Linked DNA regions of Homo sapiens. The protein of the gene in region 2 purifies or fractionates together with the protein of the main gene of each other region. This does not show direct contact. Each region holds a gene or a part of one and is shown on either strand. Other genes may lie near its edges. The genes, in order: EPB41L2, NSMAF, NEK9, HEPHL1, DSG4, TCHH and PADI3.

The links.
Region 1: the proteins of NSMAF (region 2) and EPB41L2 purify together in Homo sapiens (affinity purification with mass spectrometry; one large-scale study listed by BioGRID and IntAct). This does not show direct contact.
Region 3: the proteins of NSMAF (region 2) and NEK9 purify together in Homo sapiens (affinity purification with mass spectrometry; one large-scale study listed by BioGRID and IntAct). This does not show direct contact.
Region 4: the proteins of NSMAF (region 2) and HEPHL1 purify together in Homo sapiens (affinity purification with mass spectrometry; 2 studies listed by BioGRID and IntAct, with this or other methods). This does not show direct contact.
Region 5: the proteins of NSMAF (region 2) and DSG4 purify together in Homo sapiens (affinity purification with mass spectrometry; 2 studies listed by BioGRID and IntAct, with this or other methods). This does not show direct contact.
Region 6: the proteins of NSMAF (region 2) and TCHH purify together in Homo sapiens (affinity purification with mass spectrometry; 2 studies listed by BioGRID and IntAct, with this or other methods). This does not show direct contact.
Region 7: the proteins of NSMAF (region 2) and PADI3 purify together in Homo sapiens (affinity purification with mass spectrometry; one large-scale study listed by BioGRID and IntAct). This does not show direct contact.

Annotation. Positions count from the first base shown.
Region 1 is NC_000006.12:131,053,118-131,057,232, forward strand, and holds part of EPB41L2 (band 4.1-like protein 2), read right to left. Parts: intron 1-4,115. UniProt on the Homo sapiens protein: Required for dynein-dynactin complex and NUMA1 recruitment at the mitotic cell cortex during anaphase.
Region 2 is NC_000008.11:58,593,743-58,597,857, reverse strand, and holds part of NSMAF (protein FAN), read left to right. Parts: intron 1-307; coding exon 308-471; intron 472-1,782; exon of another isoform or gene 1,783-1,798; intron 1,799-2,001; exon of another isoform or gene 2,002-2,058; intron 2,059-2,198; coding exon 2,199-2,298; intron 2,299-3,003; exon of another isoform or gene 3,004-3,088; coding exon of another isoform or gene 3,089-3,120; intron 3,121-3,567; coding exon 3,568-3,626; intron 3,627-4,115. UniProt on the Homo sapiens protein: Couples the p55 TNF-receptor (TNF-R55 / TNFR1) to neutral sphingomyelinase (N-SMASE). Specifically binds to the N-smase activation domain of TNF-R55. May regulate ceramide production by N-SMASE.
Region 3 is NC_000014.9:75,106,349-75,110,463, forward strand, and holds part of NEK9 (serine/threonine-protein kinase Nek9), read right to left. Parts: intron 4,024-4,115; coding exon 3,973-4,023; intron 3,530-3,972; coding exon 3,337-3,529; intron 1,140-3,336; coding exon 995-1,139; intron 355-994; coding exon 154-354; coding exon of another isoform or gene 118-153; intron 1-117.
Region 4 is NC_000011.10:94,069,662-94,073,776, reverse strand, and holds part of HEPHL1 (ferroxidase HEPHL1 precursor), read right to left. Parts: intron 3,404-4,115; coding exon 3,235-3,403; intron 753-3,234; coding exon 613-752; intron 470-612; coding exon 338-469; intron 1-337. UniProt on the Homo sapiens protein: Is a copper-binding glycoprotein with ferroxidase activity. It oxidizes Fe(2+) to Fe(3+) without releasing radical oxygen species. May be involved in the regulation of intracellular iron content.
Region 5 is NC_000018.10:31,410,799-31,414,913, reverse strand, and holds the end of DSG4 (desmoglein-4 isoform 2 preproprotein), read right to left. Parts: intron 3,805-4,115; coding exon of another isoform or gene 3,684-3,804; coding exon 3,466-3,683; intron 2,087-3,465; coding exon 1,319-2,086; 3' UTR 5-1,318; downstream 1-4.
Region 6 is NC_000001.11:152,108,784-152,112,712, reverse strand, and holds part of TCHH (trichohyalin), read left to right. Parts: coding exon 1-3,929. UniProt on the Homo sapiens protein: Intermediate filament-associated protein that associates in regular arrays with keratin intermediate filaments (KIF) of the inner root sheath cells of the hair follicle and the granular layer of the epidermis.
Region 7 is NC_000001.11:17,265,942-17,270,056, reverse strand, and holds part of PADI3 (protein-arginine deiminase type-3), read right to left. Parts: intron 3,991-4,115; exon of another isoform or gene 3,761-3,990; intron 3,339-3,760; coding exon 3,221-3,338; intron 2,221-3,220; coding exon 2,095-2,220; intron 1-2,094. UniProt on the Homo sapiens protein: Catalyzes the deimination of arginine residues of proteins.

The DNA.
Region 1 (4,115 bases), on a different chromosome or scaffold from region 2:
ACTCCTGACCTCAGGTGATCTGCCCGCCTCGGCCTCCCAAAGTGCTGGGATTACAGGCATGAATCACCGTGCCCAGCAAGTAAATTTTAACAAATAATAAAACATAAAAATATTCTGAAACTTTAAAAAAAAAATCAAGAAACAAGAAAATCATGTTATTTAGAGACAAAACACCAGAAAATAAAACCAAAACTAGTGAAAGTAGTTGTGGCAGACTGTCACGGTTACTACTTGAGACCATCACTACAACAGTTACTACTGTTACTACTTGAGACCCTCATTAGGAGACGGGACGAAGGGACGAACATGGAAATGATAAAAAAAAAAAAAAAAAAAAAAAAAGAAACTGTTTTAAAGGAAAGGCCAGGGGAAGAAAAGCTCCCTGCTTCTAGTCAGCAAAGGCAGCCCCCCTGAGCTCCACAGCCCTTCGTATTTATTGGGTAACAAGAACAGGGAGGAGGAGGTAGCAACTGGTCAGCTGCTTAACTGATCGCAGGTTCATATTGTTACTAACAGGCTTCAGATGTACCTAATCACAAGAAACACTGCACTTGGGGCGTGACTGCCTTCAGCATTCCTTCTGGGTGGCATACACAGTTTGTCAGTTTGCCAACATTCTACATTTATGAGAAACATTTTGTTGCTTACTCATATAGCCTCCAGTGGTATACTGAGTTGATCATAACCCTCATTCTTTCGACCTCCAACGTTTCTCCCTTTTTGTTTTTTAATTAATTGAGAAAGGCAACTACAGGCTGTGCAGCCCTTAATTGCCAGTTGGTGGTCCAGCTGATCTTACAACGGGAGGCACAGGAAACCATGGCCAGCATGGCCACAAACATGGAGTCAGGGGTCTTTGCCTGACCCTGACACTAACAGTGTCTCAGCTTCCTGTGTGGTTTTCTTGATCTATCCCCATGTCATGAGGGTTGATGTCAGTGTGACTCCGGTCGGTCCTCATTCCATCTTCGCATTCAGATTCAACTGGCTCATGGCTCGTATTAGGGGAACAAGGCCTGTAGCTAGAATCCATGGATCTCTCCAGTCTTCCATTCCATGGTCGCACACACCTTGAGGGCACCCACACAGTTTGTTCATCTCCTTATGTTGTCAAGCAGACTTGTAACGGGGTTTCTCATTTGTCTGGTTGGTTTTAGTTTTTTCTGTTCCAGCAGAACTTCCTCATTCAAGTCCCTATAGGACCCTGTCTCTATCTGTCCCTGTCTGTCCCTGCAAGTTTCTGCTAGCTTCTGCTGGTCTCTGCTAGTCTTTGCTAGTCTCTGCTAGTATTTGCTAGTCTTTATCTATCCCTGTCTGTCCCTGTCTGTCTCTACGGTCCCTGTTAGTTCCTCCAAGTTGGTGCAAGTCCCTATCTTTCCCTATCTGTCTCTATCTCTATTTATCCCTACTTATCTCTATGTGTCCCTGTAGGCCTCCTCAGGTCCCTTCAGGTCTCTTCAGGTCTCTGTTTGTCACTGATAGTCCCTGTTCGGGCGCCACTTGTGGCACATTGCCACAGTTACTACTTGAGACCTTCACTACAACAGTTACTACTGTTACTACTTGAGACCGTCATTACGAGACTGAAGGAAGGGACAAACATGGAAATAACAAAAAAACAAAAGGAACTGTTTTAAAGGAAGGGCCAGGGGAAGAAGAAAAGAGCTCCCTGCTTCTAGTGAGCAAAGGCAGCCCCTGAGCTTCCACAGCCCTTCATATTTATTGGGTAACAAGAGCAGGGAGAAGGAGGTAAGGATTGGTCAGCTGCTTAATTGATCACAGGTTCATATTGTTACTAACAGGCTTCAGATGTACCTAATCACAAGAAACACTGTGCTTTGGGCATGACTGCCTTCAGCATTCCTTCTGGGTGGCATACGCAGTCTGTCAGTTTGCCAACATTCTGCATTTATGAAAAACAGTTTGCTGCTTACTCATATAACCTCCAGTGGTATACTGAGTTGATCATGACCCTCATTCTTTTGGCCTCCAACAAGTAGTTGCCTCAGGGGAGCAGAAATCTGTCAAGAAGGGAGCTAGGGCACTGGTCTGCTGCTTTTTTTCATAATCCCTGCAGTACTACCTGACTTTCTAAATCATATAAAGCACCCTGGAGAATGCCATTTGCACTTTAAATGAAAGCAAAAAGTGCAAAACCACAGGAAAGGCAGAAACTAAAGGTCGGGGGAGAGCCACATTTTATTCTGATGTGTTTTATCCTCTGGTATATTTTTCTAATATTGAAAAATCAGGCTAGAAACATTACTTTAAATGTCTCTAGTCTGAAAAACAAGATGAAGGGTACTCCCTGTTCCAGCATGATTCAAGAATCACACAACTAAAAGTAGTACTCAGGTCTGCTTCATAATCATACCTTTACACAAAAAACTACATGGGCGAACCCAGTCAGGAAAGCAATCCTGTCTTTTATAAAAGTTAGATACTGCAGATGCCAACAAATTGCAAAAAACTTCAACTTCTACTGAGTAATAACATCGAACAATTAAAAGCAATAACTGGAACTCACAGAAAAAACAAGGGTTTTAGCCATACACAAGCTGGGTGCCCTTGAGCCATTTATTCAATTTTTAAGCCTCAGTTTCTCATCCGTAAAATAAGCACACCAGCTACTCCAAGATGGTGCTGCAAAAAAGAAGCAGGGTTATTAACATATGTAAAGTACCAATTATAGCACCTGGTGTGTAGTCTGTGCTGCAAAACCATTAGCTTCCTTATTTTTTTTTTACATGGTTATTGATTATCAAAGCTTCAGGCCTTACAGGATTACTTACAATGGAACCTAGAACAAAGCTAGAACTGAGCATAAAATGCGTGCGTCAGGGACAGGTTAAGCAAAGCAGCTGATGCGTGACAGCACCAGAAGCAATAGACACAATAGACCCAGTGGACCCAGTGGACCAAGTGCTACACCATCATCTAATTTTTCTAGCCTAAAATAAGGATATTTATATGAAACCTGATTTCTTAATGTTGGCAACTAACAAGTTAAAACACGATGTTGCTGGAAAATATGTGTGCAGGTATATTTCACACAAAGATTTATAAAGGTTACATTTTAATGCCATATGCAGAGGTTTAAACATTGTCAACAAAAATTCTACTCACTAATAGGCTTTTTTCAACAAGTTTACTGTGGTTATAGAGAGAAGAAGTTAGAACATATGCACACAATTTTACATTTATAATCAGTTACCTCTGGCAACATAACAAAAAAGACTACATTATCCCTGTGCTGTTGAAACTAGATCCCAACTGTTTTCCCATATATATGCTCTTTTGTAAATTAACAAAAAGAATGAAGTTAAGACAAGAGTTTCTAAAAGCTCAAACATTATAGATACTGGACTGAAATTGTTAAAAAGTGGTTTTAACTTGTGATCACCATAGGAAATTACTGTTTCATTTCAAAGACTGTACTTCCACACAGATAATTATTCCTGACCACTGCAAAAAATCTGCTTACCACATATTCACCAGTAACCAACCCACTAGGTCTCTTCTTAACCTAACAATTTTTACAGATGCCAGGCACTCTATGAAGCATTTTATAAGCATTAGTTCATTTAATCCTCATGTAACTCTGAGGTAGGTATGATTTTTAACCCCTTACTACAGCAAACGAGGCTTTGAGAAATAATTTGCCCAAGGTCACAATGGCATATGTGGCAGTCTAACCAGCATCAAATAGAGTGGACATGTTACTGATTCCTTCTAATCAATATTCCATCAAAGAAATTTGTAAGGAAATAAATGCACATTCATTAAGTTCACAGGTAAGAATATGAGTGGCCAGGATTATATCAGAATTCAGTTTAACCTTGACAGTTAGGTAAATGGGGGTCAACTAAATGAATTCAATTGAATGGAAAGAAGTACAATGGGAGATAGGGGAGAATAAATGATGAAAAGTGCAATAGGGTGAAAAAATTAAAAAAAAAGAGAAAAACAAAATACTCTTAAAACTTCCATCTTCTAATCTCGAAAATAAGAACTGAAACATCAGTTCTCAATCTTTTCTGTTTCCCAAAACCCTTTCAAAAACCACTCCTAAAGTTCTCTTTCTCCCTTAACCTGTCTCTCTCATCCACTTGTGC
Region 2 (4,115 bases):
ACTTATATGTCAATAAGGAGTTTCTACTTGAGTTATAAGATATGTCTTTATCTAAATTATTAATGTATTTATTTGAAGGTTGAGGTATGGAAATTTTAAAATGAATTCTATCTTGCTTTCACTGTTGTGTTACTGAGCATCAGAAAATATTCTGAAGGTCTATAATGAGGTTTAGACAATCCTGGTACATAGTTGCTGTCATTATTTGAGGGTTAGTCCCTCCTATTGATCAGTACTATTTGAAATGCGTGCTTTCAAGGAACTCGAACCTAGTGGTTCACTGCATTATTTGTGTTCTGTCCCAAAGCATCCAGGATCCTGATGAGAAGGTAGCCATGCTTACGCAAATCTTGGAATTTGGGCAGACACCAAAACAACTATTTGTGACACCACATCCTCGAAGGATCACCCCAAAGTTTAAAAGTTTGTCCCAGACCTCCAGTTATAATGCTTCTATGGCAGATTCCCCAGGTAAATTTTGTAAAGAGAATAAACGTGAGCACCTTTTGTTTCTCTTCTGTGATGAAAATGTTTCTGAAGAGGAGATAAGACGTATACTGTTGTGCTACTTAGAGATGATTGTGTTCTCCTGCCTTATTGCAGTTCTCCTGAAAACAGATACCTGTTTTTGCTGATGTTGTTTGTTTTCAGCTATAGACTGTAAGGGAAATCAAATCGCTTTTATTTTCTGGCAATTGAATATGAGTGAAAGTTGGCCATATATGTTTTGATGTGGTTCTCTTTCTCTTCTGTGGTTTTGAAGCTGGTGTTTGATCCTTAGCTATTTGCCTTTTCATTCTTACAGTCCTAGCTGTCCAGTCTGCCTTCCCAGTCACTGTCAGCCCTGCTGTCTTCCAGAAGGGACTTTCTCTGGCCCTAATTATGCTCTTCTATACCCACATACAGATCTTTTTTTTTTTTTTTTTTGAGACGGAGTCTTGCTTTGTCCCCCACGCTGGAGTGCAGTGGCGCCATCTCGGCTCACTGCAAGCTCCGCCTCCCGGGTTCACGCCGCCGTTCTCCTGCCTCAGCCTCCTGAGTAGCTGGGACTACAGGCGCCCGCCACCACGCCCGGCTAATTTTTGTATTTTTAGTAGAGACAGGGTTTCACTGTGTTAGCCAGGATGGTCTCGATCTCCTGACCTCGTGATCCACCCTCCTCGGCCTCCCAAAGTGCTGGGATTACAGGCCTGAGCCACCGCGCTCGGCCCCACATACATCTTGAATTCAAAGTGCTCTCTCTTCTTCATTGGATTTCACTTATTTAACATTTGACAAACATTTACAGGGTATCTGTTCTGCGCTGGGCATGTGCTAGGCACTAAATTGAACTTGACCCAGTTCTCACATCTAATATTTGGAAAGGTAGGAAAGAACACTCACCTTTCTCCAGTTACCCAGGTTTTAGATTTTACCTAAGACAACTTCAAACCTACAGGCTTCCAGAAGGAGGTTGACACTCTGTGGAGCTTTGGGAGCAAAATCACTTTTTATCTCCTATCCTCCTGTCTGTTCCAAGGACATCCAGACATTTTAGGCATACATAGATGAGCATTCTCTCAAGCATGGAGAAATAGCTTCCTGGAGTTACATGACCCAGGGGTAGCTTCTTTAAGAGAGAATACTCTAGAGGGTTAAATCATGAAGATCACAGGATTATCTTGTGATGCTGTTTCAAACTGCACTCTGCTTAGTCACCAGGCTGTAACCACTGTCATGTGATTGTTTTAAGATGGTAATTGTTTCAGCCCTTCTTAAAGCAGAAGTAAAAGGATTACTCCTGCCAGAAGCCCTTGCGGTAATTGATTTCATCTCTGCTTTCCCCACCCCACACCAGAACAAAATTGTTGCATTCTTAGGCAACTGTCAGGTTTTTGAAACAATGTTGACAAGGAAATGATGACTCAGTCTTGTATTTCCCCAAATTCATAAGTTAGAGGCCGAGTGAAAACTTTGCAAACATTGTTAAAGTATAAAAAGATTCTAGTATTATTCAAAGATACTTTTTATCTTTCTCTATACAATTTTTTCCTTGACTAACGTGGAACCATCTAACAGGTACATTTCAAAGCAGTTATATTGTGACAGGGTGTTTCATTTCTTAGTTGTTTGATTTTAATAGAAAATATTGTTAATCTGATGCTGTTGTCTGTTGGTAACTTAGTTGACTTAGCAAAAATTTAATGTCGTCTCTCCAGGTGAAGAGTCTTTTGAAGACCTGACCGAAGAAAGCAAAACACTGGCCTGGAATAACATCACCAAACTGCAGTTACACGAGCACTATAAAATCCACAAAGAGTAAGAATATCTCTGCTTCTTCTCAGCAGCTGATAGTCCTGGTAAAAGTTAGGGTCTTGGCATGGGATTAAACTGTTTTAAGCTGAGTCAGAGGGAAAATTCCCTTTCAATGTTGTCTTTATTTTTAAAAATCTCCCCAAAATGTCTATAGTGATCTCCACCTGAGGTTGATGTAGTAGGGAAAGTTTGGCACGAAATGATTTGTGGTGGCTACCGTGCTGTCATTTCTGCAGTCTGTCACTTCACAGTACAAGATGTGGTCGGCAGAGAGCAGCCAGTTTTGTGCCTCTCAAATTGGAGTACACAGCTCCTTGAATCTTTGATGGGAGAAGTGTGATGTATACCCCACGAGTGTTGGATTTACACATAATGTAGGTGAAAAGGCACCTTTTAAAAAAATTAGCTCTCCCAGAGAACATTGCAAAGTTCACATGAATTTTAAAAATAATTATGCTTCTAAGAAATTGGGCTTGCTGTTGGACCCAGAGATGATATGTGTGTTCTCTGCCCTCTCTCATTAAGACCTTCATGTTCTCTGGTAGAAAGGCTCGAGAAGCACTGACCTAGCCTGTTCATCCTGCTACAGAGAGGAAACCCAGGTCCAGAGACTAGGCCCCACCTAGCTCCATGACGACAGACAGCCCCTCCGGCATACAGGTCATGGGTGGAGCTGGGCATACTGCTGTGCATTAGATGGATGGCTTCACATCACAGTCCAGCCTCCCGAAGAGAAACAAGGAGTTTTGGCTGATTCATGATGACAATGGCTGTCTTTTCTCAACTTCTCTAAATGGCACATAGGAAGGGACCTTGTAATCCAAGGTAGTGAAGACTGAATGATCCTTTAAGAGGACAGGCTGGAACCAATTTTCTCATCATTGAATAGTCACTGAGTAAATTAGCTTCAGTAATCAGCAAGTGAAGTGACTGTGAAGAAGAGTTTGTCCTTTTGGTGATGGTCAAACGAGGGGGAATAGAAGGAGAAGAGTTTTCCAATTGCCAGAAATTGTCAGGAATATGTAAAGCATTGCATGTGGAACACAGGGAAGCAAAGAGTGGGGATGTTTTCTAGCCACAGGCGTTGCCAGAACGTTAGAAGGTGCCAAGCAGTGATTTGGTAATGGCAGGTTTATGCTGGGACAGATCCGGCAGACATGCTGTGAAGAAAAAAATTAAGGAAACTTGGTAAAATTAAATCAAGGATATGAAACAAAGAGGGTATCCTAACACATGATGAGTAGTAATTTGTGAAACTTTGTTTTTGAGCAGAGCAGTTACTGGAATCACGGTCTCTCGCAATGGATCTTCAGTATTCACAACATCCCAAGGTCAGTGTTCCTCCCCGAAAGGCGGCTTAACCAAAATCCTAGAATGTCTGAGTTCTTTATTATTTAGCTCGTGGTCAAGGACTGCACTTGCATGTGCTGCCTCCACATAAAGTAAACTTAGAGCAGTTCCTTTGTGGTACATTACATAGAGTTTCATGGTAATTTGCCAAAAATAATAATGAAACATCTTTCTGTTGCTGATGAGGTTTCCCAGAGTTGAGGATAGAGGACAGAAACAGCCTCCTTTCCACACCCTTGCTGGGTCAGGCACTTCCTGCCTGCCCATGAGAGGTGCGCTGTCCACTTGTTGGGGTTGGCTGTGAGTAGCAAGTGCTGTATCAGAAATTGATGTGTGCCTGTCAGCACGTGGAAATGCAGATTTGCTGTTACGGTTTGCAGTTTTGTCATTCAGTGTATATTTCTTCGGGATATTTGATTTAGCTCAAAATCAAATTCATGTATTATTTAATATGCTTATACATTATCAAA
Region 3 (4,115 bases), on a different chromosome or scaffold from region 2:
ACTCTGTCTCGAGAAAAAAAAAAAAAAAAAAAAAAAAGATTTACTGAATTAACACTTCTCATTTAGGGGCTGCATGATGGGTTTAGATGCATACAACTTTGAAGTCAGGTTGTATACCTGTGAAGAAGTGGACAGAGACAAGGCTACCCCTACCATATTCGCCACAGCCCCAAGAATAGACTTCCTTGTTTCGTGTCAGAACCACCACATGATTATCTCCACAGGAGACCTGCTCCACTGGATTGCTGAGGAAGAAGTTCAGCTGCATGGGTTCTAGCACTTCAGGGCCAGCAACTTTGTCCACCCCCATGCAGCCATAATAATCTGATCCGAAGGCATAGAGCTGACCCTCATCTGCAAAAGAAAGGAAAACAGAATCCATCAAAGGACTGACTTATTTTATCTAATCAGAAAGTTGGGCAGGGCTGGAATGAGGACTACCCCAGCAAATGATCTCACATGAATTGATTATATCCAAGAAATTAAAAGGACAGACTGTGCAAGTCTAGAGTTCTATGTCAGAGAGTCATGTGTACTACTACTACTATATTAAACAATTTAAAAAGTGGTAGCATTATCACATTAAAAGGACTTAAAATTTTAATGGGGCCATCTTTGTTATATAGATAAAAAAATAAGTCCCAAGGAATCATTAACTAAGTAATGACAAGACCAAAACTAAACTTAGGTCTTGATCCTAATTTTGTGTTATTCATAGCCTGATGAGGTGGTAAGATTATTTTTCCTGCCAACCACGACACACATTTTCTCCTGATCCCACCTCTTCTCTGTTACCCACCTGTCTTCTCCTTGCTCACCACCCCCTAATACTATAGCAAATTTGGTATGTTATTATTAATGAGTATATTTGCTCAAGGTCCTCTGGTTCTTTGTATACTGTCTTTTGTTTTAAAATCCCAACTAAGATTGCACAGCATTAAGCAAAATACCCCCACATTAAATGCACTTAAGACACTTTCTGCTGATGGCTTACCAGTCACACAGACAGTGAAATCATCACCACATGACACCTGACGGATAGCTTTGCCTTGCAACTTTTCCACATGCTTTGGCTGTCGATAGGAGGCTTTGTCTCCATGGCCCAGCTGACCATGGAGTTTAGTGCCTCCTTGCATGTTCTGTGAAATAAAGAGGTCTTATGACTTTTTTTTTTAATTACATTTTATTAAACTTAAATTTTAAAGAGATGGGTTCTCGCTATGTTGCCCAAGCTGGTCTTGAACTCCTGGGCTCAAGTGATCCTCCTGCCTCGGCTTCCCAAAGTGCTGGGATTGTAGACATGAACCACCATCCCCGGCTGAGAGGTCTTATGAAGTTTTAATTTTTCATGCCAAAAGCTGATCTTTAATGGAACTTCATATGAAGAAAAACAGTAGAAAAAAAGAGCTAGAAATTTAGAAATTAGAAAAAAATGGGCAAAGGGATTAAACATTTTAATAGCAAGTAGTATACAGATCCTGCCAACAGGTAAAGAAAACTTAAAAAGTATCCAGATTAATATCCATTAATCTAATCTTTGTCCTTCAAGTCTAAGGTAAACTATATATTTAATTACAGGTGATGGTGAAAAAAATTCTTTATAATATAGTCTAACTTTGTTGCTTTCTACAGGAATATAGCTTCTTGAAAATCTGTACTAGAAGTTTCATAAATTTTGGTCACAGTTTCCCTGAAACATGGAAGAGTTATAAAGAATCTGGCTACATCAAAGAGGCTGCTATACAGCAATGAGACTAGTCCTTGATGACTTTTCAACTTTTTTTTTTTTTTTTGAGACAGAGTTTCGCTCTTGTCACCCAGGCTGGAGCGCAGTGGCTCGATCTCAGCTCACTGCAAGCTCTGCCTCCTGGGTTCAAGCGATTCTCCTGCCTCAGCCTCCCAAGTAGCAGGGATTACAGGTGCCCGCCACCACGCCTGGCTAATTTTTTGTATGTTTAGTAAAGATGGGGTTTTGCCATGTTGGCCAGGCTGGTCTCGAACTCCTGACCTCAGGTGATCCACTCGCCTCGGCCTCCCAAAGTTTTGAGATTACAGGTGTAAGCCACCATGTCTGGCCTTTTCAACAGTTTTATAGAGAAAAATAATTCTATTAAATGAGTATACTACAAGTCCTCATATTTTATATATATATGTGTGTGCGTGTGCGTGTGTGTGTGTGTGTGTGTGTGTGTGTGTGACAGTATATATATATATTTTTTTTTTTGAGACAAGGTCTTGCTCTGTCACTCAGGCTGCAGTGCAGTGGTGCAATCTTGGTTCATTGCAATCTCCACCTCCCAGGCTCAAGTGATTCTCATGCCTCAGCCTCCTGAGTAGCTGGAATCACAGGCATGCGCCACCACTCTCAGCTAACTTTTGTATTTTTAGTAGAGATGGGGTTTTGTCATGTTTGCCAGGCTGGTCTCAAACTCCTGGCCTCAAACAATCCACTCGCCTTGGCCTCCCGAAGTGCTGAGACTTCAGTTGTGAGCCACTACGCCCAGCCAATAAATGTTTAAGATACTAATTTCTCTCCAGCAGCCTGAAATGAGCCTGAGAACGCATAGCAAGAGACAGGAGGAAAGCCAAGAGAACATGCTATCACAGAAGGCAAGTAAAGACAAAGCTTCAAGAAGGAGGGAGTGGTCAACTATGTCAAATGCTGCCGAGAGGTCAAGCTAGGTAAGGACTAAAAAGCATCTGTTTTATTTTAGCAATTTATGGGTCATTTTGTCAAGACTAGTTTCAATTGAGTGGCAGTGGCAGAGATGGAAGCTGCATTGTAGGTGAATGAAGAGAGAGTGGGAGATAAGGAAACAGACAGCAAACACAGACAATTTGTTAAGGAAGGTGAGAGGGGAGAATCTAGAGGGCAACAAACAAATTCTACACAAAATATACCTAGCCATCTTCAATCACTGCTGTGGGCTTCAGGGGTTTCCTGACATGGTATAGTCCTTCCTTTGTTTACAAAGCTATTTCACAGGTAATAGTTGCTCTGAACCTCATGGTAATATAACAGAGTAATTGAGTGACTTGTCTGAAATCATCCAGCTGTAAATGGGAAACCCCAGTCTCCTGAGTCTTTCAATTTTTCTCTCCCTCTCTCATTCATTCATTCAAAAAACATTTATAGGTGACCTAATATGTACCAGCCCTGGGCATACATCAGTGAACTAAACAGACAAAATCCCTGCTCTTATAAGAGCTTCCATTCCATCACCCCATGTTGCCACTCCCTTAGTATAGGTTCAACTAATAAAATGCTTAGACATCGTGGGCCCAGTAAACAATTAGGCTTACAGCACTGTTCCAAAATGCTTAGCGTTCACTTACCACCCAAGTGTACAGTTCCTTCTCCACTGTGACCACAGCAAAGTGGGTATTCCCTGCACAGACCTGCCGGGCACTACAGCCACTCTTGATAACATCCAGTTTCTGGGGGGTGGATTTTCCACCACCCCAAACATAGACTTCACTGGTTCGTGATGTTACTACAGCAATGGGTGCTTCAGTCACAGTGCTTGACCTGCCAACAACCCCCAGAACAAAGGAACATTTAACATTAAAAACAATATCAAAGAAAAATGCTTCCAGTCTGTTCCCTGAGAAGAACTGCCAATTATGGTATGAGAAAGTATGTTCTTTCTCGACAACTTGTTTCAATGTGCTCTATCACAGCAGACTTTGCAATTCCTGCCTCAGGGCTTCATCACAGCTTGGCCAGATCAGATTCCAGTCTGACCCATAACACCTACACTTTTCCACATTCATCATGGTAATGATGGCCACTTTAGTGTGAGGGTGAAATTATAGCTTTCTTCTTAGAAATGACTGTCTGACATTTAAGCAGATGCTGGCTCCTGAAAGGATGCCAAAGTATCCTCGGATCAAATAATGCCTACACTCAAGAAAGAACCCCCTGGTTGTAATTTCGGATATATTAGTTTTTAAGAGTCTCTTGAACATTACCTTGGTCTCTTTGTAGGTGCATTAAGCAGAGTGACTTTTTCCTCCATCTCTCTACCAAAAGAAAAGCAAAGATACATGAGTGAAATAATAGGTTTTTATATTGCAAAGGTGTCTGTTTAATACATTTCACAGATTTAATCCTC
Region 4 (4,115 bases), on a different chromosome or scaffold from region 2:
AAGCTCTCCATCTTAGAGAAAAAGAAGTGACTGTGAAAGTAGCTTACTTTTGAGATTTACTATATTGCTGAGAAAAAAAGAAAGAAATGAACATTTCCTAAGAACCTACCATGGGCCAGACCTTGTCCTAAATTCTCTCCATCCCTTTCCAAAGCCCTGTGAGGTGAGTATTGTTATCTGCATTTGACAGGAGAGAATCAGGTTCAGAAAGTTTAAGTGATTGCCCAAGCTCTCAGGGCAGGTAATGGAAAGGACCAGGATTTGAACCAGGACTGTTTATTTCTAAGTGCTTTGCTCACCCGTCCTGTTTCCTCCCTAAGCCCAGAGTGAGACTTACCATCTAGGTTTGGGGCTGCATCAGATGCCTTGTCATAGATCACACCATGGGGTAAAATGCTATAGACCTTGTCGGCTTTGTTGGCAAAGGTCACTAACAGGGTATCACCCACCTCTGCCTTGATGACTGGGCCTGAAAAAATATCCAGAAGAAGAGAGAGAAGAGAATGAAAAGAGACAGAAAGAAGTAAAGCAGAAGAGTCATTCTGTGCAGATGTACATGCCCAGCTAAAACATCTCCCTGGGTTCAATGCATGGGGGATGGTTTTACTGTACCAAGAATTCCAAGATGGGCTTCTTCAGCAGAGAGTCTCTTTCTTTTAGTAAAAGTTGCATCAACAAATTCAGTATACCGAACCTTCCAGTATTTTCCTCCTATTCTGTTGTCCCCTTGTGTGAAGTAGAGATCAGAGTCACTGAAAAGACATAGGAATGTGATTGAGGACACTTCTCAACATATCCACCAAATACTTTAATTATAGAACTTCATTCTATCACTTTTAGTCCACTCGCCCACCCATGTCCCCAGAAAAGACAGCACAGGCCTTGACAGAGTTCCCAGGAATAGTTAACCAGCCCTAAAAGTCTTCAGAGGCTGGGTGATACTCAAGCTCATTTCTCTCAGCCATTGTACTTTCTTCCCAAGAGGTCCAGCACTGAACCAGTCACAAGTAAACTCCTTATTTACCAATAGTAGAGTTCCAGAATGGTGTTCTACAAAGTAACAAAGAGCTAACTGGTTTCTCTGCAGAATAAGCATCCCTCTCTCTCTTGCTGATATTAATATGAATATTCTCTGCATCTAGTAAGCTCTTTGATTTCTGGCATTATTAAGGAATGGAGTGTCTAGTTAATCAAATAGTGTAATTATTGGAGGGCTACCATATAAACCATATGCATGAAATGCAAAATTTCCAAGTCGTGAATATGATAATATAAATTCTGACTAATACTGTCTCTATACTATCTTATTTCCATCAATGGTGCCATCACTCTTGCAGCCACGTAGATTTTCTTTTTCTGCTTCATTCCCTTAACTCATTCATCCTTACTTTGTAAAATTTTTTGGCACTCTTCCTTTTCTATCCTCCTTGTGCATCTTTTCTTTTCCTTTCTTCCCACTACCACGACCCCAGTTCATGCCCTAATCACACTGGGTGGAGCCCATTATATGAACCTCTGAACTGCATCCTCTATCTGATACTGGCTCATTCACTTTTCTTCTCAGCATAGACACACAACTATTAGATTGGTGCAAAAGTAAGCCATAATGGTCATAATGGCCAAGACCGTGATTACAAATTACTTTCAATGGCCAAGACTGTGCTTATTTTTTCACTTAATACATTAATCTCCAAAATGGCAATTGTTATTGCTATTTACCTGCTCCAAAATCTTCAATTGCTTCCAATTGCCAATCAAATAATGTTCAAAAAGATTAAAGGACCTCTGCAATTGATATCCCGTTTACCCCAATTCTCTATTTCTCCATGCCAGTGCCCATTCTTCTATGCAAATTGTTACTGCAGTCTCATCTGTTCATTCCTCCCATGCCACAGGTGCTTTGCATCAACCCCTCCATCTAAAATTCCTCTCTTCCCTATTCAGTTAAATAAATTCTATCACTCCTTAAGATTTTGCTTAAGTCTCACTTCCTCTATAATGTGTTCCCTGGCCAGCTTAGCTCTCTCTGAGCATCCAGATAACTCACTACCAGGACAACTCACCTCACTTTTATTTGTAACTTGCAGTTACTTCTCTACTCTTGTGAACCCAGCTTCTTCCTCTGCATTTTATTGCTTTAGATATCCTTGCATCCCTCATGTCATCTTGCACTTTGTGCTTTCATATATCACATTAAACATTGATTGAATATAGTTTAATCTTTCCTATTTCAGAAGGCACTTCAGAATTCTAGAAGGCTCCTAAGACAATTTTGAATGCTAATTCTCATTATTCTGTTTATGGAGAAATACTAGTCAATAGAGAATGTTGATATCAGAGTCTTTCACATATGGTTCACACAAATTCTTTAGACAGGGTTCAAGTGCATCCGTTTGGTAGAATAATGAGTGAAAGTATGAATGAATGAATGAATGAATGAATAAAATGTACAATTAAAGAAACAAATGATGTTTTATTGATCACAAAGAGAATTTTTAAAACATTCCCTTAAATATAAAAAAGGATTCTTGATATCACACTGTACATTTTTTAGTATCTTCACAGACAACTTTGCATATGATTATATACTAACAAGTCACAGGAGTCCAGATCCACCTAATAAATTGCTAGATTAATTTTTTAAATAGTATATTCTATGGGAGCGCAGAGAGAACATAATTCATTTATATCAAGAGTCAAAGGTTTCACTTCAGAGGTGACATTAGAGTAAGGCTTTGAAAGAAAAATGGCATTTTACTGAATAGAAAGGAAAAGAATATTTGTAGGACATAAAGGGGACACAACTTAAATCAGGATATCCTTGAACCAAAAAGGGTAACCCTCTTAGGCCAGGTCATCTCCATCTCCTGTCATTCCCTCTTCAAGACTGTCTGCTCCATATGTGTAAAGGCCTTACTCTATTCTTTGTCAGCTTAGTATTTCTAATGGCACTTTGCACTATAGTTTGCACATAGTGCCTACTCAAGAAATGTTTGATCAATGAGTGAATGATCTAGTGTTTTGATTCAGCCGTCAAGTCACAAAACAAAAAATATTCTACCAGTTCTCAGCAGTGCTTTTGCAGTATTAAGAACACCTTAAGCAGCTACATTATGCCATCTATGCAGTATAAGCTCATCAGAGCAGTGGTTGGAATACAAATTAGATCACAGAGAAAGCCTAACACATGCTTCTCTGACGAGAGGCTTAGAAACACCAACAAAGGGTGCTTACCTGCCAGAGGCGTTTAGAGGAAGACCACTGAATTTGTTATAGCCTTGAGGAGCATAATCCCAAAGAATTTTTTCAGCTGCTATAAAGTAGCGCCTCTGTTGACCCTTCATCTTGGGGTAGAAAATATCACTTTTGCAGTTATCAACATTGTATTGCCCCAGCATACCAGCTGCAGAACAGAGGAAAACCACGAGCTGAGGCATAAATGATCACAAAAGGAATCATATAGGAAAAGACTGATAGATTTGGCTCTTGAACATTTAGGCTTCTGTACAGAAAATTGGACCATAAAGAAAGTTTTTTTAAAAAGGATAAATGGCAACAGGAGGGATATTTGTGACACATATGACAAAAGATTAATACGTAAATCACTTTTACAGATAAAGATGAAAACAAGTAAATCTCCAATAGAAAATGAGCAAGGAACAGAAATAGTTTATTCACAAAATAAATAATATTGGCCAATAAACAAATGAAAAAGAGGTTCAACCTTAACAGTACTCAAATAGTACTCAAACCTTAACAGTTTTCAAATGATACTATTGTTCATTGATCAGATTAGTAAAGATTAGAAAGACTAATAATTCTCAGTGTTGGTAGATGAATGGGGAAAGAGCCATACTCATACACTTCGTGTAGAAGAATAACAATTTCCAAAAGAGAATGTGGCAATGTATGTCCATAGCTTTTTTAAAAAAATCATACTCTTTGACCCAGAAATTCTAAATCTAGGAGTTTTTCTAAGAAAATGTTCAGACAAAAGTGCAAACATCTATAAATAATAGTCATCAGTGCTGTTTATAATAGCAAAAAAATTGGTGGGAAACATAAGCATTAAGCAATAGAGTATTGATTAAGCAAGATGTAATCTCCTTATAATG
Region 5 (4,115 bases), on a different chromosome or scaffold from region 2:
ATTATTTCCTTTCAAAAGGATTAAGCCTTGAAAATAAGTTTATTTCATTTACATTATCTCAGTCACATTATTGCTGCTACTGTATACATATTTTACAGAATTAAGTAAAATTACCTGGCTAGAGATTCTTTTTCTCAAGTCAGCTTTATGCCTACGAAAAGTAAGCAATGTGTTTCCATTTTATTTATTCAACATAAACAGTAGTGTTGCAAAGAGAAACACAACTTGGTAATGGACTTAAGTAGTTGGTTAATTATTGTTGTTAGGAACTTAAAGCCATATCCCAGAGTTTTATTTTAAGTCTAGAAATGAATAGAAGCTCTATGAAGGCAGAAACCATGTCTGTCTTCTTTACCTGTATATTCACAGAGCCAAGACTAGCACCCAACACCTAGTTGCTTCTAAGTAAATATTGTAGAATATATGAATAACTACAGAGTGCTTTTGGAGAATATCTGGTTGCCAATTGAAAGCTCTACGATTCAGGTCAATGAAATTGGTTAAGCCATATTTCATGTATTTTTCTGACATAATTGGCAACAGTAGGGAAAAAATTCCCTGTAAGTGGGGAAAACTCTAATATTTCCCCAATAACTCTTTCTACTTTAGGATTGTCATTTTTTTTTGCTATTCTAGATTAATTTACAGTTAATCATATAAATCAATAAAGTTCAATAAAAATATATATTTTTCTTTGATGAACCATTTCCAGCCATGCTTTCAGTTGGCAAACTCTTTTCTTATTATATTAAGCATCTCCTATTGCTTAATAGCGCATAATATTGAAAAATCTTTTGAAGAGACAAATGACTTCAGATATCTAAAGATATTGACAGATACTCTACGTTCCTTTTCAATTTCCTTTCAGAATGTACATTTCATTCAACTTTTCAATTAAAAATTTTAATATAAATATTTCCCTAACGAAAAATATGGCTGGTGGATGTAGACAGGGCTTCTTTTGTAACTTCCAAGAACAAGGCATCTTGGTTTACAAGATTGGTTCTACAGGCCTCAAGACCCATAGGATTCACAATATGAGTTATGTGCTATTCGTTAGACAGTATCAAGGGATGCAATACATTTTCTGCACATTTTTTGACGCATTATTTAAAATCAGAAAGAATTTTAAAAAGGCTTATCTAAAGTGCCTAGCCATATTCACCCTCAAAATGGTATAATCAAATAATGGCATTGACCTTAGAATATCTGAGTATTTGTTGACTATTAATATATATGGTACATTATATATTTTTGGTGGATGTATTGATGATTACAAGGTGCAAGGTCTCCACATAGAATACTGACCATAAAGCACTTACTGTTGGGTGTAATGTATGTTACTGTATCGTGTTACTCTGTGTCGAGATGTCATGGGGGATGTGGAGCCAACGGTTTGGCCTATGGGAAGGTCTGGACTCATCATTTGCATCACTTGAATTTCTGGCCCTACTAAAATATTGCCGCTCATCACAGGTCCCATACAACCCTCAGTCGTGCTACTATTGCTCATGTCAGGCACACCAGGACTAGCCAGTACTCTCTCAGCATAGATTACATTGTTGTAATCTGCTAACTCAGCAGGTACACAAATATTCCCTTGAATATCATAGACAGGTGCCATTACTGCTTCGGTTACTACAACATTGGGTGCAAGCTGAGGATCAAAAATAATTGTAGTGGGTTGCACACATGGATCAGCATTACCGTAAGTCTCAGTCACAATAATATCCCCATGGACCACGGGTTCAGATGCTGCCATTTCTTCTTGGAATTCAACTTCTGAGGGAGTCAATCCTGAAGATTCATTAACAAAGTAATTAGGTCCGAGCAAAGGGAGGTCAGTACTGATTGGTATACAAGCCTGGTGTGAAGGAAATGGTTCAATTTCTGTGTTTAAGCAGATCTCAGCAAGAGTCCTAAATTTTGGATCTAAAGTTTCCATGCAGCTTTCATCTAAGTCATCCACAATCCAACTGCAACAACCAATAGAGCCTACGGGAGACCCGACTCCCTCGTGGTCATAAATGAGCAAGCAGTCATTGGCTGGTCGACCTTCATCTTCATCTGCATAAGCATACGCTTTCTAAAATTAAAAGGAAATACAGAATTAGAAATTTCTTTTTCCCTAAAATAAGGAAGAATAACAGCAATCCCTCAGAGAGACTTCTGAGTTAAGTTGTTACGGAATAAACTGAATAATGGTATCAATCACTCATTAAAATAATTGATACTATCCATGCACATTCTGTGATAGCATTTGTAACTACCAATTTTAAGATATAGTTTACAATTGCAACAACATCTTCAGCATTTGTTTGGTAAAGAATCATGGTGAAATTCATGTATGAACAGATGGAGAATAAAGCAGGCCGACTGAAATATGAGATAAAATTCTAGTTCTATTTTAGTTCTTTTAAAATGTGTAATAAATTATTGTTAACTATAGCAATCCTGTTGTGCTACCAAATACTAGATCTTCTTCATTCTAACAGTATTTTTGCACCTATTAACCATCCCACTGTTTCCCCTCCCTACTACCCTTGTCAGCCTCTAGTAACCATCATTCTACTCTCTATCTCCATGAGTTCGGTTTTTCCTTTTAGCTTCCACAGATGAGTGAGAACATGTCAAATTAGTCTTTCTGTGCCTGGCATATTTCACTTAACAGTGTCCTCCAGTTCCATCCATGTTGTTGCAAAATGACAAAATTTCATTTTTTATGGCTGAATAATATTCCATTGGGTATATGAATCACATTTTAGAAGTCCAATCATCAGTTGATGGACACAGGTTGATTCCATGTATTGGCTACGTGACTAGTGCTGCAATAAACATGGGGGTGCATATATTTCTTTGATATACTGATTTCCTTTCTTTTGGATATATACCCAGCAGTGCTATTGCTGGACCCCTTTTCGTAGTGAAGGTCAGTTGGTGGATAAGTCACTGGACTGAGAATAGGAGAGCTATCTTCTAGGTCTTAATCTAGCACGAGTTGTGGTGATGCTGCGTTCCTGAGTTTTAACTCCTTTCGTTCCCAATTCTTTTTATTTTCTCTTTTCTGTTGGAGGCTCCGGGAGAACATGAAGGACATCAAAAACAGAGGTCATAAATGCACCTTTTTTCCCCTTGATGAGCATTTTCCTGCTTTGCTACTGCTGTGGGAAACAAGGTGAGGAATCAAGGAAACAAAAGATAGAAAAATGGAAAAGGGAAGTGGAGAATGATGAGGGGTGTGGCCTTGTTCACGGTACTAAGATGCGCTATGGCAGTTGAATATGAAATCCTGTGGCAAATTAGCATTTTGTGTTTTAAGGAGACGTGAAATACTTTTTATTCAGGTTTGGGATAGGGTTGAGAATAACAGCATATTTCCGAAGAGGCCTACTACCATTGTGAGTATTTTACTATTATTATTATTCAATCTCAAGACGATTTTATGTGTGACTGTGAGGGCATTACCTCCGAGAAGTAGCTGTCCAAGAAAGCCATGTTGATGTCTGCGTCAGCGTAGTCCCGCAGGGTTCCCATGGTAGAGCTCCTCTTCCTTGCGGCCCCTGAGGCTCCTGCGGCCCCTGCGGCCATGAGGCCAACGGCTGTCCCCATACCTGTGTTGAGCTCCACTCCCGATACACCTCCTTCCACCGTGCCCCCGGCTGCATAGGTGTTGGTGTAGATTTCTGAAAAGGGAGGATGTTGGTTTAACAGCGCTGGAGTTGCCTGCAGCGCGCATCTGCCTAAAACGCTGCCGCCGCCGTCTGCGGTGCCACCACCACCCGGCAAGGCGTAGGCGCTAAAAAGCTGACAAAGAGAGATACAAGTTACACCGATACATCTCCAGGCTTGTTGACCAAATAAAAGTAAATTAATTACACAGAGGGAGTCAGTGGTGGGACGTGGCCTTCCCACATTTGCACAGACTTCGCCCTAGACTTAAAGGTGTAGAACTAGCCAAGAGAACTACAAGCAGGCGCCCGTTCCCGCCGTGGCTGCTGCGGGCTTGATCCAGCCGGGAGCCCTCCAAAGCAAGGCCAGCGGCGTGATTGCAGAAACTGAGCTCATAGTCCTCCTTCACTCCGGAACAGGATGGAGCTGGGCTCACAGGGATGTTC
Region 6 (3,929 bases), on a different chromosome or scaffold from region 2:
CGCGACGAGGAGCTGTGGCGGCAAAGGCAAGAATGGCAAGAACGGGAAGAGCGCCGTGCAGAGGAAGAGCAGCTGCAGAGTTGCAAAGGTCACGAAACTGAGGAGTTTCCAGACGAAGAGCAACTGCGAAGGCGGGAGCTGCTGGAGCTGAGGAGGAAGGGCCGCGAGGAGAAACAGCAGCAAAGGCGAGAGCGGCAAGACAGAGTGTTCCAGGAGGAAGAAGAGAAAGAGTGGAGGAAGCGCGAGACAGTGCTCCGGAAGGAAGAAGAGAAGTTGCAGGAAGAGGAGCCGCAGCGGCAAAGAGAGCTCCAGGAGGAAGAAGAGCAGCTACGGAAGCTGGAGCGGCAAGAGCTGAGGAGGGAGCGCCAGGAGGAAGAGCAGCAGCAGCAAAGGCTGAGGCGCGAGCAGCAACTAAGGCGCAAGCAGGAGGAGGAGAGGCGCGAGCAGCAGGAGGAGAGGCGCGAGCAGCAGGAGAGGCGCGAGCAGCAGGAGGAGAGGCGCGAGCAGCAGCTGAGGCGCGAGCAGGAGGAGAGGCGCGAGCAGCAGCTGAGGCGCGAGCAGGAGGAGGAGAGGCGCGAGCAGCAGCTGAGGCGCGAGCAGGAGGAGGAGAGGCGCGAGCAGCAGCTGAGGCGCGAGCAGCAGCTGAGGCGCGAGCAGCAGCTGAGGCGCGAGCAGCAGCTGAGGCGCGAGCAGCAGCTGAGGCGCGAGCAGCAGCTGAGGCGCGAGCAGCAGCTGAGGCGCGAGCAGCAGCTGAGGCGCGAGCAGCAGCTGAGGCGCGAGCAGGAGGAGGAGAGGCACGAGCAGAAGCACGAGCAGGAGAGGCGCGAGCAGCGGCTGAAGCGCGAGCAGGAGGAGAGGCGCGATTGGCTGAAGCGCGAGGAGGAGACGGAGAGGCACGAGCAGGAGAGGCGCAAGCAGCAGCTGAAGCGCGACCAGGAGGAGGAGAGGCGCGAACGTTGGCTGAAGCTCGAGGAGGAGGAGAGGCGCGAGCAGCAGGAGAGGCGCGAGCAGCAACTAAGGCGGGAGCAAGAGGAGAGGCGCGAGCAGCGGCTGAAGCGCCAGGAGGAGGAAGAGAGGCTCCAGCAGCGGTTGAGGAGCGAGCAACAACTAAGACGCGAGCAGGAGGAGAGGCGCGAGCAGCTGCTGAAGCGCGAGGAGGAGAAGAGGCTCGAGCAGGAGAGGCGAGAGCAGCGGCTGAAGCGCGAGCAGGAGGAGAGGCGCGATCAGCTGCTGAAGCGCGAGGAGGAGAGGCGCCAGCAGCGGCTGAAGCGCGAGCAGGAAGAGAGGCTCGAGCAGCGACTGAAGCGCGAGGAGGTGGAGAGACTCGAGCAGGAGGAGAGGCGCGAGCAGCGGCTGAAGCGCGAGGAGCCGGAGGAAGAGAGGCGCCAGCAGCTGCTGAAGAGCGAGGAGCAGGAGGAGAGGCGCCAGCAGCAACTAAGGCGCGAGCAGCAGGAAAGGCGCGAGCAGCGGCTGAAGCGCGAGGAGGAGGAAGAGAGGCTCGAGCAGCGGCTGAAGCGCGAGCATGAGGAAGAGAGGCGCGAGCAGGAGCTAGCTGAGGAGGAGCAGGAACAGGCCCGGGAGCGGATTAAGAGCCGCATCCCGAAGTGGCAGTGGCAGCTAGAAAGCGAGGCCGACGCACGGCAAAGCAAAGTCTACTCGAGGCCCCGCAAGCAGGAAGGGCAGAGGCGCCGCCAAGAGCAGGAGGAAAAGAGGCGGCGCCGGGAGAGTGAGCTGCAATGGCAGGAGGAGGAACGGGCTCACCGGCAGCAGCAGGAAGAGGAGCAGCGCCGGGACTTCACATGGCAGTGGCAGGCGGAGGAAAAGAGCGAGAGGGGCCGTCAGAGGCTGTCGGCCAGGCCCCCATTGCGGGAGCAGCGGGAGAGGCAGCTGAGGGCCGAGGAGCGCCAGCAGCGGGAACAACGGTTTCTCCCGGAGGAGGAGGAGAAGGAGCAGCGGCGCCGCCAGCGACGCGAGAGGGAGAAAGAGCTGCAGTTCCTGGAGGAAGAGGAGCAGCTCCAGCGGCGGGAGCGTGCCCAACAGCTCCAGGAGGAGGAGGACGGCCTCCAGGAGGATCAGGAGAGGAGGCGAAGCCAGGAGCAGCGCCGCGACCAAAAATGGAGGTGGCAACTAGAAGAAGAAAGGAAGAGACGCCGCCACACGCTGTACGCCAAGCCAGCCCTACAAGAGCAGCTGAGGAAGGAACAGCAGCTGCTGCAGGAGGAGGAGGAGGAGCTACAGAGAGAGGAGCGCGAGAAGAGAAGGCGCCAAGAACAGGAGAGACAATACCGCGAGGAAGAGCAGCTGCAGCAGGAGGAAGAGCAGCTGCTGAGAGAGGAACGGGAGAAAAGAAGACGCCAGGAGCGGGAAAGGCAATATCGGAAGGATAAGAAGCTGCAGCAGAAGGAAGAGCAGCTGCTGGGAGAGGAACCGGAGAAGAGAAGGCGCCAGGAGCGGGAGAAAAAATACCGCGAGGAAGAGGAGTTGCAGCAGGAGGAAGAGCAGCTGCTGAGAGAGGAACGGGAGAAGAGAAGGCGCCAGGAGTGGGAGAGGCAGTACCGCAAAAAAGACGAGCTGCAGCAGGAAGAAGAGCAGCTGCTGAGAGAGGAACGGGAGAAAAGAAGACTCCAGGAGCGGGAGAGGCAATATCGGGAGGAAGAGGAGCTGCAGCAGGAGGAAGAGCAGCTGCTGGGAGAGGAACGGGAGACGAGAAGGCGCCAGGAGCTGGAGAGGCAATATCGGAAGGAAGAGGAGCTGCAGCAGGAGGAAGAGCAGCTGCTGAGAGAGGAACCGGAGAAGAGAAGGCGCCAGGAGCGGGAGAGGCAATGTCGGGAGGAAGAGGAGCTGCAGCAGGAGGAAGAGCAGCTGCTGAGAGAGGAACGGGAGAAGAGAAGGCGCCAGGAGCTGGAGAGGCAATATCGGGAGGAAGAGGAGGTGCAGCAGGAGGAAGAGCAGCTGCTGAGAGAGGAACCGGAGAAGAGAAGGCGCCAGGAGCTGGAGAGGCAATACCGCGAGGAAGAGGAGCTGCAGCAGGAGGAAGAGCAGCTGCTGAGAGAGGAACAGGAGAAAAGGCGCCAGGAGCGGGAGAGGCAGTATCGGGAGGAGGAAGAGCTTCAGCGCCAGAAAAGGAAGCAGCGATACCGGGATGAGGATCAGCGCAGTGATCTGAAATGGCAGTGGGAACCAGAAAAAGAAAATGCAGTTCGTGATAACAAGGTTTACTGCAAAGGCAGAGAGAATGAACAGTTCCGGCAGTTGGAAGATTCCCAGCTGCGCGACAGACAATCCCAGCAAGATCTGCAGCACCTGCTGGGTGAACAGCAAGAGCGAGATCGTGAGCAAGAGAGGAGGCGCTGGCAGCAGCGCGACAGGCATTTCCCAGAGGAAGAACAGCTGGAGCGAGAAGAGCAAAAGGAAGCCAAAAGGCGCGACAGGAAGTCCCAAGAGGAAAAGCAGTTGCTGAGAGAGGAAAGAGAAGAGAAGAGACGCCGTCAAGAGACAGACAGAAAATTCCGCGAGGAGGAACAGCTGCTCCAGGAAAGGGAGGAACAGCCGCTGCGCCGCCAAGAGCGTGACAGAAAATTCCGCGAAGAGGAACTGCGCCATCAGGAACAAGGGAGAAAATTCCTCGAGGAGGAACAGCGGCTGCGCCGCCAGGAACGGGAGAGAAAATTCCTTAAGGAGGAACAGCAGCTGCGCTGCCAGGAGCGCGAGCAACAGCTGCGTCAGGACCGCGACAGAAAATTCCGCGAGGAGGAACAGCAGCTGAGCCGCCAAGAGCGTGACAGAAAATTCCGTGAAGAGGAACAGCAGGTGCGCCGCCAGGAACGAGAGAGAAAATTCCTGGAGGAGGAACAGCAGCTGCGCCAGGAGCGTCACAGAAAATTCCGCGAAGAGGAACAGCTGCTCCAGGAAAGGGAAGAACAGCAGCT
Region 7 (4,115 bases), on a different chromosome or scaffold from region 2:
GGGGGAAAGGGTCTTCCTTTCTAAGACTGGCGCTCATACCTTTTTGGAGCACAATTTGGCAGCATCCAACAAAGTAATGTTTACCCCAAGCCCAGCAATTCCACTGCTAGGTATCTTTCCTACAAAAATACATCTACAGGCTGGGCACGGTGGCTCATGTCTGTAATCACAGCACTTTGGGAGACCGAAGGCGGTGGATCACCTGAAGTTAGGAGTTCAAGACCAGCCTGGCTAACATAGTGAAACCCTGTCTCTACTAAAAATACAAAAATTAGCCGGGCGGTGGTGGTGCACACCTATAATCCCAGCTACTCAGGAGGCTTAGGCAGGAGGATTGCTTGAACCCAGGAGGCGGAGGTTGCAGTGAGCCAAGATCACACCACTGCACTCCAGCCTGGGCATGGAGCGAGAATCCATCTCAAAAAAAACCAAAACCAACAAAAAACAAAACAACAACAACAAACAAACAATAATAGGTACAAAGTCACATAATATTTCTGTACAAGAGTGCTCGATATTCATTAATTCATCAAATATTTACTGTGCAACTACAGTGCACCCATGGGGCACGGTTCTGGACTTGAACAAAGCCCCTGACCTCAAGCAACCTGCATTGTTATAAAATCAAAACACTGCAAACCACTATGATGTTCAGAGAACTGTGTAAGTCACAGCACCTCTATGCTTAGGAATATTATACAGCAGTGGAAAAGAATGAAGTAGAGCTCAATAAATACCAGAAAAGGTGTGTGGGATTATTACTTAATGAAAGAAGCCGGTTGGAAAGCAGCATATGGACACACGCTGGAGAACATGTAGAATAAAGTTGGGAAGCACACATCCCAACTCGTTAACAGTGACAATCAGATTCAGGCCAGGTGCGGCGTCTCACGCCTATAATCCTAGTACTTTGAGAGGCCAAAGCGGGTGGATTGCTTGAGCCCAGGAGTTCACGACCAGCCTGGGCAGCATGGTGAAACCCTGTCTTTACAAAAAAAAAAAAATTAGCAGGGTGTGGTGGTACATGCCTGTAGTCCCAGCTACTCGTGAGGCTAAGGTGGAAGGATTGCTTGAGCCTGAAAGGTGGAGGCTGCAGTGAGCTGAGATCATGCCACTGCACTCCAGCCCGGGCAACAGAGCAAGACCTTGACTCAAAAAAAAAAAAAAAAAGTCAGATTTAGAGACGGGTAGAGAACTCTCAGGTTTCATTTTCTATACTTCCATATTGTCTGATTATTTAAAAAATAAGCGGCCAGGCACGGTGGCTCACGCCTATAATCCCAGCACTTTGGGAGGCCGAGGCGGGCAGATCACAAGGTCAGGAGATTGAGACCATCCTGGCTAAGACAATGAAACCCTGTCTCTACTAAAAATACAAAAAATTAGCTGGGTGTGGTGGCACATGCCTGCAGTCACAGCTACTTGGGAGGCTGAGGCAGGAGAATCGCCAGAACCCAGGAGGTGGAGGTTGCAGTGACCCGAGGTCACGCCACTGTACTCCAGCCTGAGCAACAGAGCGAGACTCTGTCTCAAAAAAAAAAAAAAAAAAAAAAAAAAAGCATCTTATTACTTGTATACATTTTTAGTTTCTCAAAGGCATTTAGATTTTTACTTGTATTTCTTGTGATTTTGGCAGACTATGTAAAACAACAGCCATCTATATTTGGGGGGAATACAAACTGAATTAATTGGGTGAAATCTATGGTGTTTGGGGTTGGTTTTACAAAACTTCAGCGAGACAGACAAAACAGTGATAATTGTTTAATCTGAGTGACAGGCACATGGGGATTCACAGCACTGCTTTTTGTGTATGTTTGAAATTTTTGATAAGAATTTCTACACATGCTTAAAATGTATTTGAAAAGGTCATTCATCAAATAAAATGACCTCAGGCCAGGTGTTGTGCTGGGGGCACCAGTTCATCAGTTCCAAAGCCCCCACTTCTGACTGTTCTTACTGCGACCCGCCACCCACCAGGGCATCTCCCGGAGTGTAAGCAGGACCTGCCCATGGCCCAAGGCAGGAACAGGAGGTTCCCTGGTAGGCAACCTGGCAACAGGGCACAGATGGCAAGGGGCAGTGGCACAAACTCACCGCAGATGTGGAAGACCTGTGCCCGTTTGGCATCATAGCTGGAGGTATGGAGGACAAGTTTGTGGTCATCAAAGAGGGCTGCAGGGCCCTGCGTCCGCAGGACCATGACAGACATGTCTTCCAGGTCTGTGAAGCCAGACAGAGTGGTAGTGACTCAAGGGAGTCCTGGCCCCTGGCCCCTTCCTCTGCTGCCCAGCTCCCTCCCCAGGTCAGTGGGTATCAAGACCTGGGTCTCCCAGCCCTAGCTTTGTGAAAACCCTGGAAGCCATCAAGAACAAACCATGAAGACATCTATGCTCTCCTGGACTCATGTTTCCTCAATTGCCCAGAGAAACATGAAGTGTGGCATAGCCAGCTGGTGTCTGACACACAACAGGTGCTCCAGAGAAGCAAGGAGGGTAAGGCCATGTGGGCGTCGTGCAGGTAAGGGTTCTGGCCTCCATCCCAGCATCACTCCCTGTGACCCTGGACAAGCCCCTCCCTTCTGGAGCCCCAGCATCCCCATGTCCAATGGTGCCCACTTCAGAAGGCAACCGTGGGCATCTCCCGTGGACAGCACCTAGCATACCCTGGAATATTGCAGCTCATTCTCCATGGGGCTGGAATTCAGGACAGATGGACTTAGCAAGAGGTGGGGGAGTCACAGAAATGTAGGCCAGAGGTGCTGAAGGAGGAGGCCCAGATTTGGGGTTGAGAGGGGAGGCCCCAGATCAGACACAGTCTTCAGGGAGTCTCCTGGCTTCTGAGTCTCAGCATCCTCATCTCTAAATTGGGGTGATGATATTGTCCCACTTGGATGATTCAATGAGAATTTGGGGAAAAGGCCTGGCACACAGTAGGTGCTCAAATAATGCTAGCATCCTCTGCTCCCCTGGAGGAAGAGAATGGCGAGGTGGCTCATTTCCAGAGCTTCTGCCCTGGCATGTGAGTGCTCACTGGCCCTAGAGACACTAGGGAGGGGCAGCTGCCAGCCTGAGATGGGTTTTGAGGAGCATCGAGGTGTGTCTGGAGGCTGGCGCTCTCCCCTGGACTCTGGCCTCAGAGTCTCGCCTGTGGGTTGGAACTCCCATGGGGTAACTGAGCAGTGACCCTGGACACCCAGGGACTCAGGCTGCCCCGGCCTCACCTTGCAGGCAGTGCACGTGCTGGTCACAATTGTCCTGGACATCACAGCTCGGATCATCACGGTCACAGTTCACCAGCAAGATGCCGCCATACCCACTGGGCCCCCAGACCCACTGCCGCTGCCAATGACAAAACATAGCCAGTGATGAGGGCTCAGATGAGACCTGTGCCTCCCTACCCAGGAACCCGAGCCTGGCCTGTAACCACCCAACCCTGTGAGGCTAGGTCCACGTTCTCGAAGCACCTCCTTCTCAAGACATGTCAATGGCAATGGCTCTCTGTTGCCCACACCATCCAGTCCAAAGCACAGAGCTGTCTTTCATGGCTATCTGTGATGGGCCTTCAGCCAACATCCTCTTTCTCAATAGGCAACCTGATTATAGGACCACACGCCTCACTCTGTGCTCATTCCTCCATTAAACCCTCCTTGGTTTTGCTCCTGCCATTCCCTGCACCTGGAACGTCCTCCCTCCTGCACCCCTTCAGAGCTCAGCTCAAGGGTACGTCCCTCCAGGAAGCCTTCCTCACCCACCCAGCCCACCTCGACCTTCTCCTCTTAACTCCCAGGGCACCAAGTTCCAACATAATTCAGTCCCAAGTTCTTCAACAGTTTCATATTTGGTTTCTCTTCTCGCCTAGGTCAGGATCAGCACATTATGAACTGTGGGCCAAATCTGGCCTACTGCCTGTTTGTATAAATAAAGTTTTATTAGCACACAGTCACATCCATCCATTTCTGTATTAACTGTGGCTGCTTTCACACTATAGTGGCAGAATTGAGACCATATGTCCCACAAAGCCTAAAATACTTGCTATGTGACTTTTCACGGAAAAAGTTTGCCCACTCCTGACCTAGTTTATGAGTCCAGAAGGTCTTGATCCCACAAACCAAGGCC